Regions from separate parts of the Homo sapiens genome. Here region 1 is linked to region 2. Evidence: fine-mapped expression QTL. A gene starts in region 2. The other region holds a variant in brackets. All regions are shown on one strand. Distances are between the middles of the regions. Region 1 overlaps GPLD1 (glycosylphosphatidylinositol specific phospholipase D1). Region 2 holds the start of GPLD1 (glycosylphosphatidylinositol specific phospholipase D1).

The links.
Region 1: its variant is fine-mapped to the expression of GPLD1 in tibial artery (GTEx, PIP 0.96).

What each region holds. Positions count from the first base shown.
Region 1 is chr6:24,432,802-24,438,040 of GRCh38, forward strand. GPLD1 (glycosylphosphatidylinositol specific phospholipase D1) reads right to left here. Exons shown (of 25, transcript NM_001503.4): 21 at 4,312-4,488; 22 at 3,775-3,935; 23 at 562-588; 24 at 386-436. Among named protein-coding and RNA genes, the nearest start is that of MRS2, 32 kb to the left of the region's middle. The variant C/T (reference allele first, on the strand shown) is at 2,335.
Region 2 is chr6:24,487,401-24,492,639 of GRCh38, forward strand. It overlaps GPLD1 (glycosylphosphatidylinositol specific phospholipase D1), which reads right to left and starts at 2,178. Exons shown (of 25, transcript NM_001503.4): 1 at 2,015-2,178. The coding sequence starts at 2,111.

The sequences.
Region 1 (5,239 bases), 55 kb before region 2:
CAGCAGACGAGCCCGGCTATGTTCCACTACAGCTGTGTGGGCGCTGAAACTGCACTGCCGTTTAAACTTCATATGTTACAAAACATTCTGTTTTGATTTCTTTTCAACCATCTCAACATGAGCTGACTTTTTTAGTTCATGGCTTTACAAAATTAGGTGGCAGACGACTTGGCCCCAACCCCTGCTGTAGAGGATAAAATAGGAAGAGTAAAAAGGGAAACTTTCCACCAAGGAAGTGATGAGATTATATGTGAATGTTACTTTCTGTGTGTTCCTCTCCTTTTCAAATAAAAATAAAATCTGAAATAAACCTAACAAGTGAGACCACCAAATCCCACCCGTAGTACTAACATAAACATCAATGAAGTTCAGTCCTTGGGCTCACCTTTGCCTTGGACCTCACGGTGATGAGGGAGCTCCCAAACCTTGAGCTGGCCTGTAAAACATGCCGTCTGTTAATGGGCTTTGAAGAACATAGTGTAATACTTTATCCGTTTAAAATAAACCAAGGGGCATTGTTTTGGTAATTTTTCTTTCTTCAGTCTTTCAAGGGATACTTACTTCAGGAGAAATCAATACATATTGGGCCTGAAGAAAAAAATTGAGGAGAGAGACAATGTTATTACTGTTTGTGTGGCTTTTTAAAATCAATTTTAATTATACCCTTATACCCTCATTTCTACTTTTTTTTTTTTTTTTTTTTTTTTTTGAGAAGGAGTCTTGCTCTGTCGCCCAGGCTGGAGTGCAGTGGCGTGATCTCAGCTCACTGCAACCTCTGCCTCCCAGGTTCAAGCAAGTCTCCCGCTTCAGCCTCGTGAGTTGATGGAATTACAGGCGCCCACCACCACGCCCGGTTAATTTTTTTGTATTTTTAGTAGAGAGGCGGTTTCACCACGTTGGCCAGGCCGGTCTCGAACTCCTCACCTCAGGTGATCCACCCACCTCAGCCTCCCAAAGTGCTGGGATTACAGGCATGAGCCACCACGCCCAGCCTCATTTCTACATTTCTTGATTAGCCTTACAAATGTGCATGCCCTTTGACCCCAGAAATTCTACTTATAGAAATACAGGTCAGAAAAATAACCAGATGTATAAAAACATTTATGTGACTATTTACCATATTATTTAAAACAATGAAAATTGGAAATGGCACAATTGACTAACAATGGTTGCCTGAATAATGGGTAAATAAACTATGGTTTGTCTGTAGATAAAATACTCATCAGCCGGTAAATATCATATTATATAAGAATATCAGATAACATAAGAAAATGTTCTCGGTATATTGTTAGGTAGAAAGAAAAATCAAGTTACGGCCAGGCACAGTGGCTCACACCTATAATCCCAGCACTTTGGGAGGCTGAGGCAGGCGGATCACTGGAGGTCAGGAGTTCGAGACCAGCTTGGCCAACGTGGTGAAACCCCGTCTCTACTAAAAACACAAAAATTAGCCAGGCACGGTGGTGTGCGCCTGTAGTCCCAGCTACTCAGGAAGCTGAGGCAGGAGAATCGCTTGAACCTGGGAGGTGGAGGTTTTACTGAGCCGAGATCATGCCACTGCACTCCAGCCTGGATGACAGAGTGAGACTCCATTAAAAAAAAAAAAGTTACAAAATTATGCACAAATTATGCACAATAGGATCACAATTGTTAACCAAAATATGCACGCACATAGTGTAATACTTAAGGGTAGGCTTTAGAATCAGATCTTGGTTCAAATCTCTGTTGTGCCCTGCCTTCCTGGCAGTGTAACCTTGAATAAACTTCCTCGCTGATCTTTAATTTTTTTATTTTAAGACAGGGTCTTGGGCGGATCACGAGGTCAGGAGATCAAGACCATCGTGGCTAACACGGTGAAACCCCGTTTCTACTAAAAATACAAAAAAATTAGCCAGGCGTGGTAGTGGGCGCCTGTAGCCCCAGCTACTTGGGAGGCTGAGGCAGGAGAATGGCATGAACCTGGGAGGTGGAGGTTGCAGTGAGCCGAGATCACGCCACTGCACTCCAGCCTGGGCGACAGAGCGAGACTCCGTCTCAAAAAAAAAAAAAAAAAAGACAGGGTCTCCCTATGTTGCCCAAGCTGGTGCTGAACTCCTGAGCTCAAGGGATCCTCCTGCCTCAGCCTCCCAAAGTGCTGGGATTACAAGCATAAGCCACCACACTCAGCTGAGATCTTTAATTTTTTTAATCTGTAAATGGGCATAATATTAATTTCTTTTTTTTTTTTTTTGAGACAGAGTCTTGCTGTTGCCCAGGTTGGAGTGCAGTGGCATGATCTCGACTCACTGCAAGCTCCGCCTCCCGGGTTCACGCCATTCTCCTGCCTCAGCCTCC[C/T]GAGTAGCTGGGACTACAGGCGCCCGCCACCAAGCCCGGCTAATTTTTTGTATCTTTAGTAGGGACAGGGTTTCACAGTGTTAGCCAGGATGGTCTCGATCTTCTGACCTTGTGATCCGCCCGCCTCAGCCTCCCAAAGTGCTGGGATTACAGGCGTGAGCCACTGCGCCCGGCCAATTTCATAGCTTTTATGGGGATTAAATGATACATAGTTCTTAGCATATGCATACTAAATGCACAATAAATGGTAGTAATTAAATTCATAGGAAAAATACTAGCAGGATCCGCTCTAAAGGTAAGCAGGTATTAGCTCTGCAGAGTGGAATTTTAGGTAGATAATTTTTAATTCTCTTTGTACATTTTTGTATTTTCTAAAATTTCCATAATAAACTTTCACTAATTTTGCAATTTAAAAAATAATTTTAAATTTTTTAAAATAGGTGGGGTACGGTGGCTCATGCCTGTTATCCCAGCACTTTGGGCTGTAATCCCAGCCTGGCCGACATGGTGAAACCCTGTCTCTACTAAAAATACAAAAAATTAGCCAGGCGTGGTGGTGCATGCCTGTAGTCCCAGCTATTCGGGAGGCTGAAGCAGGAAAATGGCTTGAACCTGGGAGGAGGAGGTTGCAGTGAGCCGAGACCGTGCCACTGCACTCCAGCCTGGGCAATAGAGCCAGACGCTGTCTCAAAAAAAAAAAAAAAAAAAAAAAGTTAAATAATGGCCAAATGCTTTAGGCCCAGGAAATGTAACTTAAGGAAACTCACCCAAAAAAGGAATAAACAAAGAAATGAAACAAAAAGCAAAAGAGAGGACGTTTTAATGAAACTCCAGTGGCTGGCCGAGCATGGTGGCTCATGCCTGTAATCCCAGCACTTTGTGAGGCCAGGTAGAAGAACTGCTTGAGCCCAAGAGTTCAATACCAGCCTGGGCAACATAGTGAGGCCCCATCTCTACAAATAATAAAAAGATTAGCCGGGTGTGGTGGCACATGCCTGTAGTCCTAGCTACTCGGGAGGCTGAGACAAGAGAATCACCTGAGCCCAGGAGTTTGAGGCTGCAGTGGGCCATGATCACACCACTGCACTCCAGCCTGGGCAATGGAACAGGAACCCGTCTCTATTTTAAAAAGAGAAACTCCAATGGCCATGGCCTGTTTTCTTTCTTCTGTGCTGTGGGTGCCTAACCAAGCAGTGGCAGGCTGTGTGACCAGGGACCTACATAACACCAAGTCCAGTGGGACTTTAGCTCTGGGCACAAATGTTGCAGAACTGTAAGAACTGCAGGCAGCTGGGGCCCACAAAACATGGACAGATGATGGTGTCCTGACCCTAGGAGGTATGAATTCAGGTAAGCACTTTATAGTGGACATGAGTTAACAAGGAATCAGCAATTAGTGATCCTTTCCCAATAAGTTATAGAATTTTGTAGAACACTTACCTTTTCTTCTGGACATGGAGTTATCCATGATTTGCATTTGCCAGTCATGTCACCAAGGGTGGTCTCTTTGCCATTATATACATATACTCGGCCGTCTTCTCCCCCAATCAGTCCAGAGGTTACATCTGCTATCCTCAGGGGGGCTGCCATGATGATTTCATCTGAAAACAATAAAAACCGACAGAAGGAAGTATTTGACTCCTCACTGTCATCTTTTCCTTGTTCCGCTACTGGATCCTAACCCAACCTCTTACAAATAATATTAGTATCTCCTTTAGTCGGCTGTGATTTCATCCTGGCAAAGGCTTTTGTTTCCTACTTCATTCATCAATAGCAATTACTACAGGTGATTCTCATATTACCAGCTTCAAGAAGTGCAACTCCCTCTCTGGTCTTGCCTCATTCAAGATCTGTCTAAAGGTCCTTGGGCCACTGGGCTGTCAATTATAAGGGCAGAGCCCAGATGACCCAATTAGGGGACCCACCCCCTGGGCAAAGGGACTCAATTCTTGTCAAAGGGTCCTGTTCCTTTCTTACCTAAGCCATCATCATCCAGGTCACTCAAGTGCAGAACGCCACCAAATCGGGAGAAGCGGCGGTCTCCGCTGAAGGTGCTGAGCAGCAGAGGCTGCGCGTCAGATGTGAGTGCGTACATGCGAGTGGCTCCGCCTTGGTGTAGGGTCACGGTCAGGAATGCCACCTTAGACACGTCATCTGAAACGAACCACAGTTCCTGCTGGCCTCACAGAAAGGAAGGCATTACAGAACACGGAATAGCACCCCATCCTCAAGTGACACTGATCACTCGGGATCCTACAGGACAGTCGGTTTCGGAGCTGGTCATCTCCGGCAGTCAGGGAGGTACAACCAGCTTGGGCACCAAGGCACAAACACCAGAGAGCTTCAGTGATTTCCCTCCAGGCAGGTATTCTTTTTTCCAGTCTTATCCCCATAATACAGTCTCCACACAGCCACCTTTTTATTTTCTCGTATCACAAACTAGGTCACCCCCATGACTGACACATCCAAACGCAAGTGGACTCTGGATGGAGTCCAAACTCTTCACAAGGCCTTACAGAATCTGACTCCCACTTGGGGATCTAGCGCCATTAACCTTTTCACCCACACTTCACCAAAATGAACTTAAACCACAGCCCAATCTATGTCTTAAATTTGGGCCTTTGGACATGATGTGCTCTCTGCCTGGAATAGAGGCATATGCTCCGCGTGCTCCCCTGTCCACATCCCTCTGCTGGCTACTCCTGTCACCCTGCAGAATTTGGCTCAGGTGTCCCCTCCTCTGGGAAGCCTTTCCTAATCTCGCTGGTCTAGAGAAGAGGCCGCTTCCCTGTGCTCCCATACATAATAACACCGAGTCCAGTGGGACTTTAGCTCTGGGCACAAACGCTACAGAACTGCAAGAACTGCAGACAGCTGGGGCCCACAAAACATGGGCAAGTGATTG
Region 2 (5,239 bases):
GCCTTCAATTATGTTCACATAAATATTATTCTTTAAATGTCCATTAGGACCTTTGTTTGGTACTTAATGAAGAAGGGCAAGCAATTATCTGGTTTTATTAAAATTTCAGATGCAATCTGTCTTGTAAATTTTTAAACACTAAGGATTAAAAATGGAGTATTTCCATTTATATTTGTTCCTCATCAGCTTACTCTGTAGTTTTGGCAATTTCAACTTCACAGAACATAGAACTGCAAGACACTTTAGAATTCTTTAAGAAGTTCAACCCCCTCATTTTATAGAATTGAGAGGTAGGTAAAAAGTGAATTGCTCAGAATCACACATCTACTTTACTGGATGGCTGGAACTAGAACCTAAGTCTGATCCTCTTTTCCATTGTTTCCTGACTCCCTTCTAGCAGTACATTTTTAATGGAAAGAACGCCGGACCAGCTGTCAGGACATGTAATTCTAGGCCAGGCCACTGAAAACTTAGCTGTAAAACTGTCTAGTATCAGTTTCTTCATCTGTAAAAGAAGAGAACTGGACTCGGTGACTTCTAGTGTCCTTTCAGATAGTCAAATTCTGTGATAACAGGTTCTTGCCCATCGTAGCTCAGTATATATGTCTATTTTGCACTGATAAATTTTCATTTTTTGCCTATAATCTTATTATTCTTTGAAACTTCTGGAGGTGGTACAACTATAAAATTCTGTTATAATTTTTATCTAAATTAAAGAAAACTCAGGCCAGGCGCGATGGCTCACGCCTGTAATCCCAGCACTTTGGGAGGCCGAGGCAGGCGGATCGCAAGGTCAGGAGATCGAGATCATCCTGGCTAACATGGTGAAACCCCATCTCTACTAAAAAAAAATACAAAAAAATTAGCCAGGCGTGGTGGCGGGCACCTGTAGTCCCAGCTACTCGGGAGGTTGAGGCAGGAGAATGGTGTGAACCCAGGAGGCGGAGCTTGCAGTGAGCCGAGATTGCGCCACTGCACTCCAGCATGGCGGACAGAGCGAGACTCCGTCTCAAAAAAAAAAAAAAGAAAACTCAGAACATCAGGTATATCTGAAATTAATCTGAAAATTGCTGTAGAATGTTATCACAGCTAATTCTATTACAAATTGACTCACGTTTTCCATGCGTTAAAACATGTTACAAATACACTTCATACAAGAACCAAATCCTTTTGCTAAGAAAGATCTTAAGTGTTCTCAGCCCATATGCAAAAAACATGGTAGCTATGTGGGGGGGGCGGATGTGTTAATTAGCTTGATTGTGCTAATCATTTCACAAGGCATACATATATCAACACATCATGTTGTATATCTTAAATTTATACAATTTTTGTCAATTATACATCAATAAAGCTAGAAAAATAAAAATTTTAAATAACTCTTTGTGGTGCCATCTCCCTATATCCAGGATGACTCTGCCCTTGCCCCTAAGGTCGGTGGCACTGGCTTGCTGTACCCTTCTGCTCTCCAACTCCTGCCATCTTCCTGGCACCGTGCATGTGGATAACTAAACTCCCTTACTTTCTTGACCTTCCTGAAGCCAAGCACTTTTACAGCAATTTGACTCAGGGACCCACTCCCATGGCCACATATGGCTCTTTACATATACTTGGAAATGCCTGTCCTTGGACATGTAAAAACAACAAAAGTACATTTCTCACTCCTGCCATATTCCACCCATCTTGTTCCTCTCCCATTCTGTCAGTTCTGCTGCCACGTTGCAACCTCTCGTTCACTGAGCCTCTCACTATTTCCCCACCCAGAGAAACACACAGGGGTCCCATGACCAATGGGGCATCAGCTCTCTTTCTTATTTGCCCCTTAACTGAAGTCATGCTGCCAATCCCTATCCCTGGATGACTGCAATCACCGGCTTCTCCTCCCTGCTGTCAGGCCACTCAGCTCAGTGCCCAGGGGAAACTGTATCAATCCACGAGCGGGATTTTCAGTCTCTTCCTTAATGTCTTTGACAGATGTATTGTCCTCTCAACAACATAACAAGACACCAGTACTTACCTATTTCTACGTGTGTTGAAAGGCCACACGGTGAACCTCTATGGCAGAGAGAACCCAACATGATCAGCAGGCCAGGCCACAACCTGAAAGCAGACATGATCTCATTGCCCACCGGCTTCTCTGGTGACGTGGGAATGCTCAGAGCTGCAGCAGCACTGGGACTCCAAAATCCAGGTGCAGACCCACCGCTTCTCTCTAAGCAGGTCACTGACCGAGGAAACCAAGCCTCATTTCAAAATAATATCGTTTTCCAATGAAGTCAACTGTCCAACTACTGTTTAGCTTCACCAGAACAGCAAACAAACTCTGTGCTCCTGGGGGGTGGGGTTGGGAGGATAAACTGAAATCTGAAAAGCCTTAGGCCAGAAGCACTGCATCTTCTGACCGAGGTTTTTTCTGGATTTCATTTTAACATGAAATTTGTGTAGAGATGCAAGCAAAGTTGTCTCCAGATATTTTTTGCTTTCTATAAAAAGGCTCACCTGTGCAGATAGTCAACATATTAGACCACCTCACCTTACAAGGGTGGATCTCTCATGCATCCTTTCTACACATTTATCAGGCTGTCCTGCTTCCTCCGCCTCCCAAGCCACAAGTGCTGGGAAAGTTTTATGGTAATCAGCTGGAACTGGCTTCCTTTTCAGTATTTGGCAACAGATACTGACACTTGTATGGGATTACACAAGAGCAGCCACTCCTGGTCTCTCTACCTCTGGCTGTTCTAATAGGGCTTATCCAGAGCCTGTTGCAAGGTCAGATTCCTGCAGCTGAAGCAAAGATGTCAATTCCACTTGGGAGGTGGAAGGAAGGGGGCAGATTTAGGGCCAAGAAACAGGGTTTGGAAAATGTTAAGCTCACGATATATTATCAGGTACCCACTTACACTTCATCCATGGGAAAAATTAAGCTCTTCATGAAACTGATGGTAATCTTAAAACACAAATTATGCATATTTTACATTAAAAGCAAGAGATGGGCTCCTAAAAGAGTGGGAGGAAATAGTATTCACTTCAGGTTTGCCAAATGAAAGGATGAATAGAAAGTGGGATGATTTGGCTGGGCGTGGCGGCCCACACCTGTAATCCCAGCACTCTGGGAGGCTGAGGCTGGTGGATCACCTGAGGTCAGGAGTTTGAGACCAGCGTGATCAACATAGTGAAGACCCCGTCTCTACTAAAAATACAAAAATTAGCCAGGTGTGGTGGCACGTGACTGTAGTCCCAGCTACTGGGGAGGCTGAGGTGGGAGGATCTCTTGAACCCAGGAGGTGGAGATTGCGGTGAGCCGAGATTGCACCACTGCACTCTAGCCTGGGTGACAGAGCAAGACCCTGTCTCAAAAAAAAAAAAAGAAAAGAAAAAAAGAAAGTGGAATGATTTGACAACAGTTGTCGCCCCAACAGTTTCCCCTGTAAGCTTAACACAGCCATGTGCACAGCCCCAAGGAAAGAAATCCCGCAGCTACCCCCAGACCTGAGGGGCAGTAGGCCCAGCTACTCCTGATTAGTCCAGAGGCCATATGCCTACGTGTTTTGTTTGGCTAACAGGATGTTTTATAAACTTAAATCAAGTTTATGAACTTTTTCTAAATGAGAAAATTCACGTAGAAATCTAGATTTCTGGCTCTCTTAAAAACAAAAGAACTGGCATCATGAACTGACGCTCCCATGTGACACGACAACCAGCTGCAGCCAAAGAGCCAGCTGCCCCCTGATAGAGCATGTCCTGCTCCTCCAGTCCCCACCATCCATGCAATGTGTGCAGGTTTCCACACCCCTTCTGGCCACCAGAGGCCTTTGAGTTTGCCTCCCTGTCACTCTGGGCCTTCTACAGACTGTGCGTGAGGGAGTCACAATTATTAATTGGGACTTTGGATATTGTCTCTCAGAACATCCAAGAGCAGTCAATCAATGGTTACAGGGGAAAAAAATACTGCTAGAAAAGATATCTAACCATATATAATACAACAAACCCATCCAAAAAGCACCAAAGAAATGGGTTCAGAACAGGTGTGGTGGCTCACGCCTATAATCCCAGCACTTTAGGAGGCCAAGGCGGGCAGATGGCTTGAGGCCAGGAGTTCAAAACCAGCCTGTGCAACATGGCAAAATCCCGTCTCTACCAAGAAAAAAACAAAAACAAAAATTAGCCGGGCATGGTGGCATGCACTTATGGTCCAAGCTACTCAGGAGGCTGAGGCGGGAACATCGCCTGTACCTGGGAAGTGAAGGTTGCAGTGAGCTGAGATCACACCACTGCACTCCAGCCTGGGCAAGACCCCACCTCAAAAAAAAAAAAGGAATGGGTTCAGTTACCAAACAATACTAATCCCAAATGTCTCAATTTCTCATTATGCATTTTTTTGTATTTGAGATTCAGAATGACATAAACGTATAAATGTAATAAAATAAGAGGAAATTATTTGCTTAGTGTGATAGTTATGAATATGGTCTTTATATGACAATATTGCTTGCAGTTTTATGAAGTTTGTATTACTTTGGTAACAATAAAAACATCAAAGATATGACTTTAAAGAAAGTTAAAACGTAGCTCACAATATTACTATCTGACAAATAATAAGCATATGGAAATATTTTTCTTTCTGCCCCACACCCCCCTTTCCTAATATAGGTGGCTTTGTTATAAACAAGACAGCATGATTCTACCATTTAGAACTCTTCTGGAAATAGAGACCCAAGGTGAAAAGTAAACATACAGTTACATTAAGGAGTGAGTAGGGAGAATACAGGTTTGAAAGCCAGAGGGTCTCAAGCTTTATGTGGGCCAGTCTAGAAAATGGGGGAGAAGAGGCTGGGCACAGTGTCTCATGCCTGTAATCCCAGCACTTTGGGAGGCCGAGGTGGGCAGATCACCTGAGGTCAGGAGTTCAAGACCAGCCTGGCCAACATGGTGAAACCCCATCTCTACTAAACAATACAAAAATTAGCCAGGCATGGTGGCGCGCACCTGTACTCCCAGCTACTCTGGAGGCTGAGGCAGGAGAATCACTTGAACCCAGGAGGCAGACGTTGCAATGAGCTGAGATCGTGCCATTGCACTCCAGCCTGGGCGACAGAGTAAGACCCTGACTCAAAAAAAAAAAAAAAAAAAAAAGTGAAAGAAAAAAAAGAAAAAGAAAATGGGGGAGAGGATGAATAAGGGTGGGAACTGGGGAGTGGAGGTTCCCAGGACAAGGGCAGCCAAAGGAGAAAGGAGGGAAGAGGTC